3 linked regions of the Homo sapiens genome follow. The protein of the gene in region 2 purifies or fractionates together with the protein of the main gene of each other region. This does not show direct contact. Each region holds a gene or a part of one and is shown on either strand. Other genes may lie near its edges. The genes, in order: EMC2, HSD17B4 and SPATA7.

Region 1 (3,658 bases), on a different chromosome or scaffold from region 2:
GCAGAATATAAGGACACAGTTAAACTGTACAGCACAATCAATTATCTAGAAGTACTGAAAATAAAATTTTAAAAGACGGCAAAAAGAAAAATAGTCTGAAAGCACTCTTACAAACTAAAAATAATCATAATTTAAATGTTCCTATTGTCTAGAAAACACTACCGAATATTGTTGAAACATTAGAAAAGAATTATTGGACAGGACAAAAGAATGACTAAGCATTAAAAAAAAAATGATAAACTGAACTTCATCAGAACTAAAAACTTCACAAGGCACCATTTAGAAAATAAAATATTCAAGCAAGAGAATAGGGAGAAATATTCACAGCACATATATCTGACAAAGCTTTTATCCAGAATATATAAAGACCTCCTACAAATCAGCAGTAAAAAAGGTAAAATAACGCAATTTTTTAAATGGGTAAAGACTAAAGAAGATACTTCAAAAAGAAGTTATTTGAATATCTAAGCAAACATGACAAGGTTTTCAACCTCATTAGTCATCAAAAAATGTAAATTAAAGCCATATTGAGACAGTATTCCACACACTCTAGAATGTCTGAATTAAAAAAAAAAAAATTAACACCACCATGATTAACAGGCTCCATGCCTGCCAGCTGATAAGATTTGGTTACCTTTCCATGGCTTCAAATCTCATGCCTGTTAATCGCTTGACTCTGTGACTGCCAGGGAACTGTCTTCTCAGCTCTTGAAGACAAAACTGAAAAAATAAGGGTTGAGTAGTAATTACATTATTTATACTAAATGGGCTACAATGGATGGCCTATATAGTCTTCAATGTGTCTTCTTGAATAATTTCATTAGTGTCATCTAATAACATGAAGTGAAATTAATCAGTAACAAATAATGGATTGAAAGAAGCACTATGACATTACAGTGAAGGCAACAATCAGTTCTCAGAAACTGATCATGCTCTTAACCAGGAAAATGAACAGATTATGAGAACCACTAATAACTCTTTAAGTACTAATATCATATTATTCCTCCTTAAAAACTACTTCTATAATGTGTCAGGCCCCTACTTAAATGACAACAGCGCCTGGCGTTTTCTTCCTAATTACAGCATAAGCATTCTCCTGGTAAGAACTAAGTTTTTTAGTAGTCATCTCAAGTTCCTAGCAAATAACATAAACACTGATTAATTTTGCCCTGTTGAAATTTTATATTAATCAGCCAACCTTTCTTATTTTTTTTTGAGATGGAGTCTTGCTCTGTTACCCAGGTTAGAATGCAGTGGCACGATCCTGGCTCACTGCAAACTCCACCTCCTGGGTTCAAGCGATTCTCCTGCCTCGGCCTCCCAAGTAGCTCGGACTACAGGCGCCTGTCACCACACCCAGCTCATTTTTGTATTTTTAGTAGAGACGGGGTTTCAACATGTTGGCCAGCCTGGTCGCGAACTCCTGACCTCAGGTGATCCGCCTGCCTTGGCCTCCCAAACTGCTGGGATTACAGGCATGAGCCACCGCACCCAGCCAATCAATCATCCTTTCAATCAACATATCCTGATTTGGGGTCAGAAAATACAGACATTAAACGGATGGAATACCAATTTCTTTGAACAAGTATCCATAATTGACTCATCAACTTGACTAAATAAATAATCAAATATTTACTGAGTATCTACATTCTCAGCAACATATGAAGGATTCAAAGTTTTGGAAGTCCTAGAAATGTTAAAGATGATACAAATAGTCCACTGAAGCATATTAATGCATGTGTGACCAAAACAATGCCATTAACTACTGATGAAACTATTAACTGGTAATAAAATAAGTTTTAATATGAATTGGAAATACAGCTTCAAAGTTTGTGGCTGAAATTTGCCACACTAAGAAAAATATTCAAGTTAATCAAAAGTGAAGATATGTTCATTTATTTCTTTGATATCAAGCAAAATCATATTACTTGGTCAGTCAAGCAAGCTAACTGTATAAATAATCTTAACCATTATAAAGTTACTGTTTAATTGTGTATACTGCTTTATTAATCAATAGTGTTATCTAATTTGACTTCCTACTTTATCAAGTGATATTTGGCTATTTCAAAAAAAATAAAAATAAAAACCTCTCTCAAGACATAAAACGGTCACCTCTATGAATATTCAAAAGACTATGTCTCATAGGTTCTGAAGGTAATCCAACAAAGGTTTTGTGGAATGTTTTCATCACTAACAGCTCCACTAGAATTACATGTATAGCCAACCCAACCTTGAAAAGGACAATACTAATTCAGATGTGAATTTTTTTCAGGTATTTCAATTTTTTGTTTTTGCATATTTTCTTTCAGTTTAAATACAGAGGCAGCATGAAGCGGTACTTAAGAATTCAAGATGATAGGAACAACATTAACAGATGCCTCTGCTTTCTGATTTATAAAATAAATATAATAATAACATCAAACACAAATCAAATCAAGAAATAATTATGAAGGCTCAATAAAATCATGATGTAAAGCATTTAGCTTCGTTCCTAGCATGAGTCCAAAAACATAGCTACCATTACAGTGTTATTTTAAAAGCAGTATTAGGTTTGTTTGATTTTTTTCTTTTTTTTTTTTGAGACAGAGTCTCGCTCTGTTGCCCAGGCTGGAGTGCAGTGGCACAATCTCAGCTCACTGCAATCTCTGCCTTCCAGGTTCAAGCGATCCTCCTGCCTCAGCCCCCAGAGTAGCTGGGACTAGAGGCACGCTCCACCACGCCTGGCTGATTTTTTGTATCTTTACTAGAGACGGGGTTTCACCACGTTGGCCAGGCTGGTCTCGAACTCCTGACCTCAGGTGGTCTGCCTGCCTCGGCCTCCCAAAGTGCTGGGATTACAGGTGTGAGCCACCTTGCCTGGCCAAACATTATTAGTATTTTATGTTATGTTCTATACGTCGGGATTTTCTTATGTCAGATATGTTTATAATATTGTGTAACAGTATTGAACATTACATTCTGTGAAAGTCATTCAATAACACAAAATACAAAATTGTTTTAAACTTTCTTATTTTAAACTCTATAAAATAGGATAAGTCACTTACTAAGCAGATAAATTTCAGTAACTAAATCTTTACAGTAAAACTGGGATACTAAACAGCTACTTCTCAGGACTAATAAAAAGATATAAGATACTTTGTCCTAAAATATCTAGTTAGTTCCACTTACTGTTCAGAGTAGCACTCAAAACTAGCTATTGAAAGCATTCCATATAAGCCATACATTAAGTCTTAACTACGGTATACAATTGATGAAGCAAATTAAATATATACTTCATTTAAATACCTACCAATGCCAAGTCATCCCGACCATAGTCTAGTGCTGCAATCATCACCTGTTCATATATGATCCAAACTAGATACACATAAAGGGGGAAAAAAACTGAATTTAATATTAAAACAAACCCAAATGGAAATTAATGAATTCTAGTTTCTGATATTTCTAGAGAACATTACTTATAACTGAAAACTGATTTATTGTATTATCTCTGAAACTAAGAATGCATTCTTACATGTTTCAGCAGTGTAAAATATGTTAATGTAAGGTTAAAATCTCCAATTATTTAATAGTTTTACTGTTCTAAAAGAGTCCATACACAATACATTTTGGCCAGACATTTGGCAGCCCTGTGAGCTTTAAAACAAAATGCCTATTTGAT
Region 2 (3,658 bases):
GCATGGAAAGAGATAATTAATGAACAAAATGCACTTCAGTAAATTACTTTATTGTTACCAAATCAAGCAAATCATTTTAAAACACTGGTTTAAAATGTTTCTTATATCTTAAGAATAGAAAGGAAAGGAGGAAGGGAGGGAGAAAGTGAGAAAAGGAGGCAGGGAGAGAAGGAGTCCTAAAACTAATAGAAAAAGAATATCTATAATCACTGAAGAAAAATATAGCAAATATGCTGAAAAGATAAGACAGCATGCTTAGAATTTAACAAAATGGCAAGAATACATTATATTTAGACATTTAATCATTTCTCAGCCCTTCAAGTTTGTATCCATAGAAATTATTTACATACTATTCATCACCAGAATTGCAGGAAAATAAAAACCTGTAATATAGTCATGGTCCTTAACACTTTTAGAGTTCATAATCTTAATCAAAAAGCAAAACTTACTCATACAAAACAAATTAGAAAATGTGAGGGCTCCAAAATATGTGGCACAGATATTAGCTGCAAAGGCTTTCAGAGAACACCAATTTGAGTGTATCTATGGGTAGGAAAGTGGGGAATAGTAAGAGACTGTCTCTAAGAGCAAAGTGGAGCTTGAACTTAAGCCTGAAGGACAGGAGGAATTTGAAAAGTAAAATAAACAATATGTACAAATTAAGCAGGAAAATGATATTGCAACCAGCAGAAAGGAATTAGGAGTAAAGCAACCATGTAAGAAGAATTTTGCAGTTATCTATTTGTGAAAGAAAACATGATACAGAAAAGACATTTGGGGCCTGTAATCAAAGCTTTGAAGCCATGCTGATCGGGTTTCTATCCCAGCTCAACCACTTGCTGTGTGACCATGAGCAAGTTATTTAGGACACCTAGATTAGATTTTCTTAGGAACCTAGATTTTCTTATATTTACATACAGATTTATTATGCATATTAAAGAAAATACTATTGCCAGTTTATAGGTTCTCAATAAATGAAAGCTGTTCCTATTATCATTGGAGTTGTTTAATATGCTCTATATAGCATGAAATGATCAAGCCAAAAAGTATTAGCCTGGTCAACTGTGTTAACAAAAACTGTCTTTTAATAACTTGCAAATAAAACAATGATTGCATGTCCTTTTAGTATTTTACTGGAGCATTGCTAACAGCCTCACCCCAAAATAACCTCATTTACTATTTGTTAGGCCCAGACTCTGTGATGTAACTTGTTAATTTGTGGATTTTTTGTGTAATCAAGATGCATATGATTTCTGTCCAGAGAAAACTCATAAAGGATAAGATTTTATTGTTCTATAGGATATTAACTAATTTTGTCTCTAACTCTGCAAAATTATTTTAGAATAACTTTCCTATTGGACCATATAAACTGTTGTTCTAATTTTTTTTCGAACATGTTTTATCATATTGCAAGATCCTTCATTAATGAGTCAGATAGATTTCTGTCATGTTTTCACTGTATATCTGTCTGAGTCATGCCTTTAAATTTTTTAAGATGATATTTTGACAATGACTTGATTGACTAGTTGAGCCAAAAAGACATGGTTGGCTGGGTTTTCAGAATAGCTGGGCCACTGCTACATAGATAGCTACCAATTTAGTTGAAAATAAAAGAGAAAATAAAACACAGGGTGCAAAACACTTCTATTTTATTAAGTGTTGCCTGATAAATAAAAATTTTGAAAACACCAGACAAGCTGTATCTTATTTTTAATTAAAATTTACCATTACTTAAAAAGAACTTTCTATCCATAGTACTAACCAAAAAAAAATGGTAAGATGGAACACAATGATAAAGCATGTGAGAAGGGTGAAAAAGCAAAATTCATACCTTGGTTTGAAAATGAATTCTGTTTCCTTCCTTCCACATCTCAGTTTGTAGAGTTTGTCCTGGATATACTGGTTTTGCAAAACGAGCCTTTAAAAAAGAATTGTGGGGTTAAAAATGTTTTAAAAGGAAACTCTTTTACTTGTAGGAGGAAAAAATTGGAAAGGAAACTAGAGAGCACAAAAGAAAAAAAAAATCAAGGTTTAAAGATATTTAAATTCATAAAAGACCTAAGTATAATATGATAAAATTAGTAAAATAAAGATGTAACTAATATAAGTAAGCCAATTCTTTGTCTTTCAAAGTATGGAATCAAAAAATAGTGTTTTTTATCTTGACAAATCAAGAAATAAAACCATAATCATATTAGGTGAGTTATATAGGTACATCAGAACAACTTAAAGAAACAGTTAAAAGTGGTACAAATTAAGTCTAAGGAATGAGGCCTGGGGTGAGTATGCAGGGCAAAATAATTCCACTTTTTATTTCATAATTTTTTATATTATTTTCTCTGTGTATATATTACTGGATAATAAAAAATAGTTGTAACAAAATGAAAAGCATGAGAGTAATTAGTGTTATCAAAGGCAATGCATCAGAAAATATATTTTCACTACTGCATGGAGGATAAATTAAAAGCTTTTGGAGCTATTTGACAACCCCTTAAACTTTTTTAAGTGTACATCTTTTGGCTTAAACATACACAAAAATAATATGGGCATGGATATTTTTCCTTGTTATTTATAATGGATAAAAATTTGAAATCAACTAAAAAGTACAGAGTTAAAACAATATGCAGTCATTATATTGCTGTAGATGTATGTTTATTGGACTTAATCAGCCACTTAACATTTTTAATTAAATTAATGAAAATGATAAAACAGTTAAAAAAAGCAAATCTTGAGTTTTCAAGGCATACGTACTGATATATATATATATAATATATGCACCTAATTAATTTATAAAGCAACCCAGTTAATCTGTCAAAATTGCAACTGTGCATCCTTCCTGGTGCATGTGCAACAGAGCTATTTATAGCTACAAAAAGAAAGTGTGCTGATTGCCAGGTCAATGAAATAATAAAAATGTACATTGCTGTAGTACAATATCTATTTTCAATTAAATCACTAAAACCCCTTTTCTTCTCTAAAGATAGAAAAAGGAAGTAATATTCAAATTACGTAGTAATACACATTTACCTTAATTGCCTTGAATCTTGACACATCATTATCTGCAAACTGCTGTAACACACGCCTGGCAGAAAATCCAAATGTACATAATCCATGTAATATGGGCTTGTCAAAACCTAGGAAAAGAGAGAACACTGAGTTAGATACAGGTACCTTTAAAGTTTAAAAATCAAGTGTAGTTAATTCAGGACTTTAAAAATGTCCTTAGACTGCATTAGCAGGAATTATACCATCTATTTTAAGAAACACAGTAGATATTTTTTAAAGAGTATTTCCTGGGAGGAAATTATGAAATAAAGAAAGAAAGAAAAAAAAAAAACAAAACAGGAAAAGAATGTGAGAGATCTGGAAACACAATTGTTTTGTTTAGTTTTGGTTGTAACCATGAAATCATCCAGGGTACTCTCAACATCCACACAGGTACATGATCCTTCCCTAACCTTTCAGTTCCTTGCTCTCTCTCCAATGACCTTGTCCTTTGTGATAACTCACACACCCACCCTCGTGGTCCTATCCTAGACCTCGCACTAGCGGGAACTTCCCTCCACCATAATCTGAATTTCAAGTGCACTATTTTCTGAACACATTTCCTACCTTTCCATATCCTTTGCATAAATGTAATAAATAAAATAACATTTTT
Region 3 (3,658 bases), on a different chromosome or scaffold from region 2:
CCTTCTCTTGGTGTGGCTTGGGGAGAGAAACAGCAGTCACTGTGGAAAATCTTCCCAGACTTATTTTTCCATTCTCTTTTAAGGAACAAAAACCTTAATCTGCAGGGGAAAATATCCCTTCACTTTTGCCACATAACAGAATCACAGAAGTGACATCCTATCATCTTTCCCATATTCTACTGGGTAGAAGCAAGTTACAGGTCCTACCTGCACTGAAGAGGAGGGGATTGCTTAAGGGTGTGGGTCACTGTGGGGGTGTTGTCTTCAAATTTTGTCTACCACATTGAGTCAAATAGAAGGTATGAAATAAGAAGCCAGAAATAAAAACATATTAAATGCCCCATTAAAAAGACAATGATTATCACAGCACTTTGGGAGGCCGAGGCAGGCAGATCACGAGGTCAGGAGATCGAGACCATCCTGGCTAACATGGTGGAACCCCGTCTCTACTAAAAATACAAAAAATTAGCCAGGCGTGGTGGCGGGTGCCTGTAGTCCCAGCTACTCGGAGGCTGAGGCAGGAGAATGGCGTGAACCCGGGAGGCAGAGCTTGCAGTGAGCCAAGATAGCGCCACTGCAGTCTGGCCTGGGTAAAAAAGCGAGACTCTGTCTCAAAAAAAAAAAAAGACAATGATTATCAGATTGAATAATCTGACCCACCAAATACTAACCTAAAACATTGAGATTGGCAAGTGACATTAAAAAAAAAAAAAGAAGAAAACATTAAGATCAAAAAATGGAAAATGATATACCAAGTAAATACTAGTCAAAATAAAGCTAATTTAATTATATCACTATCAGAAAATATTAATAGAAAAAGCATTAAGGTAAAGAAATTCAAAGCACAGTGATAACAGGTTCAGTTCACCAAGAAACTACCTCCTTCAGGATTTTCTAAATCTGTATTCTGTATCTCTAATATCTCTAATGTAATAACATGCATTCAAAATATGTAAATCAAAAATTAATAGTACCACAAGGAGAAATAGCTAAATATGTAAGTATGTGGAAGATTTCTCTCAATAACTGATAGATTAACCAGACAAAAATAATCAATATGATATAAAAGATTTGAATATCTGGAAAATACAAAGTTTAATGAATATACTATATATCAAATACTACATGCAAAAACTATAGAATATATTTTATTTTCAAACATATAATGACAGGACATTTTTAAAAAATTGTCCACCTACTGGGACATAAAACAAGTGCTCAATAAATTTCAAGAAATGGATATAATATAGATGTTTCCTAATCACAGTACAATTAGGCTAGAAATCTGTAACAAACAGATACTAAGGAAAAAGCAGATACAGAGATTAAGAAATAGTTCTAAATGATTTCTGGGTTAAATAAAAAAATCATAATGAAAATTGTAGGCCGGGCATGGTGGCTCACGCCTGTAATCCCAGCACTTTGGGAGGCTGAGGCAAGCAGATCACTTGAGGTCAGGAGTTAGAGACCAACCTGGCCAACATGGTGAAACTAGACTCTACTAAAAACACAAAAATTAGCTGGGCATGGTGGCAGGCACCTGTAGTCCCAGCTACTTGGGAGGCTGAGGCACGAGAATTGCTTCAACCCAGGAGGCGGAGGTTGCAGTGAGCCGAGATCACACTACTGCATGCCAGCCTGGGCAACAGAGCAAGACATTATCTCAAAAAACAAAACAAAAACAAACAAACAAAAAGAAAATTGTAAAATACTTCGAATTGAAACATAATAAAAATACCACCTATCAAAACTTGTGGGATGCAGCTAAAGCTGTACTTGGTGGAAAATTTATAGCATTAAAAATGCTTACACTAGCAAAGAAGTAAGGCAGAGAATTAATAAATTAAATAAAATTAGAGATAGTACAGCAAAATAAACCCAGAGAGAGGGAAATAAAGATAAACACAGATATTAACAAAACAGAAAACAAAATACAATAGAGAAGACTAACACAATAAAAAGTGTGTCCTTTAAAAAAACTGACTCAATCTCTGATGAGAATGATGAAGAAGAAGAATGAAGGCACAAATAAACTACCTTAGGAATAACAAGGGGAAATAATACATATTCAGAAGAGATTAAGAGAATAGTATGAACAATTCTCTGCCAAAAATTTACATAAAATGAACAACTTCCTACATAAATCTAACATTGAAATCATTCTATAATGACTTAAAAAATTGAATCAGTAGTCAAAATCTTCTCATAAAAAATACTTTAGGCCTAGACAATTTTAATGTTGAGTTCCACCAAATTTAAGGAACAAATAAACCAAATGTACACAAGCTAGAGTACAGAAAGAAGAAATAGTGCCCAGTTTATTTTATGAGGATAGCATAACCAGACACAAGGAGTACAAAAAAAGAAAATGACAGGCCAGTATCAATAATGGACAGATGCCAAAATTCTAAACAAATATTAGTAAGTAAATCTAGCAATGAATAAAAAAGGTAATGTACCATGACTAAGTTCTGTTTACAACAGGAATGCAAAGTTGGTTTAACATTAAAGTCAATTGTTTGTAATTCATTACATTAACAGATTAAAAGAGGCTCAGCATAGTGGCTCATGCTTGTAATCCTAGCACTTTTTGGGAGGCCGAGGTGGGCAGATCACTTGAGGTCAGGAGTTTGAGACCAACCTGGCCAACATGGCGAGACCCCATCTCTACTGAAAACACAAAAATTAGCTGGAGTCGTGGTGGGTGCCTGTGATCCTAGCTACTGGGGAGGCTGAGGGAGGAGAATTGTTTCAACCCAGGAAGTGGAGGTTGTAGTGAGCCAAGATCATGCCACTGCACTCCAGCCTGGGCAACAGAGTGAGACTATATATATATATATAAAAAAAAAAAAACCCCACAGATTAAAAGAGAAAAATTATATCATAATATCATCATTCCAAGAGATGCAAAAAAGCATTTCATAAAATTAATATCCATTCAGGAGAAAGGGAAAAAAAAAACTTCACAAACTAGGAATAGAACTTATTTAACCAGATGTTCGAAGGTATCACAAAAAACCTATAACTGGGGTCTGCAAACTATAACCTTCAGGCCAAATCTGACCCAATGTCTTCAGTTAATAAAGTTTCAGCAGAACACGGCTATACTCATTTATTTATGTACTGTCTATGTCTGCCTTCCAATGGCAGAGTAGTTGTGACAGAGGCCTGAACAGCCTTTTAAAATATTAACTATCTGGATCTTTACAGGAAAAATTTGCTGACCCTAAACTATAGTAAACAAAGTCAGATTGTACCACTAAAGAAGTACCTTAGAAACATTTGCTTTTAAAAAATAAAAATACTATCTTACCTTTTGTAAGGTATTAAAAAGTGACTTGGAATTATTTTTATAATTGGCTCGCATTGCAGTTTTAGTTAATTTGAACTCTTTTTCACATTGTGCTAATTCCTTTTTGAGTTTCTCTCTTCGTTGTTGGTCTGCATCTAAAAGGGAAAACAAATCTTTCAAAATATGGAACAAAATAGAAAATTGGTTTTTTGGTCTTGTTAGAGTAATAAATGGAACATTTTTCTTGTTAAAATGTTATGATATGTAAATAAAAATCCATTTATTTTCCTATATAAAGAGTTACTAACACATTTTAAAAATTATTTATTTCACATGTGCCTCTAGATATTAACTAACACATTTAAT

What was found.
Region 1: the proteins of HSD17B4 (region 2) and EMC2 fractionate together in Homo sapiens (co-fractionation; one large-scale study listed by BioGRID). This does not show direct contact.
Region 3: the proteins of HSD17B4 (region 2) and SPATA7 fractionate together in Homo sapiens (co-fractionation; one large-scale study listed by BioGRID). This does not show direct contact.

What each region holds. Positions count from the first base shown.
Region 1 is NC_000008.11:108,450,124-108,453,781, reverse strand, and holds part of EMC2 (ER membrane protein complex subunit 2), read right to left. Parts: intron 3,382-3,658; coding exon of another isoform or gene 3,355-3,381; coding exon 3,290-3,354; intron 721-3,289; coding exon 635-720; intron 1-634. UniProt on the Homo sapiens protein: Part of the endoplasmic reticulum membrane protein complex (EMC) that enables the energy-independent insertion into endoplasmic reticulum membranes of newly synthesized membrane proteins.
Region 2 is NC_000005.10:119,525,393-119,529,050, reverse strand, and holds part of HSD17B4 (peroxisomal multifunctional enzyme type 2), read right to left. Parts: intron 3,135-3,658; coding exon 3,028-3,134; intron 1,919-3,027; coding exon 1,832-1,918; intron 1-1,831. UniProt on the Homo sapiens protein: Bifunctional enzyme acting on the peroxisomal fatty acid beta-oxidation pathway.
Region 3 is NC_000014.9:88,416,500-88,420,157, reverse strand, and holds part of SPATA7 (spermatogenesis-associated protein 7), read right to left. Parts: intron 3,448-3,658; coding exon 3,314-3,447; intron 1-3,313. UniProt on the Homo sapiens protein: Involved in the maintenance of both rod and cone photoreceptor cells.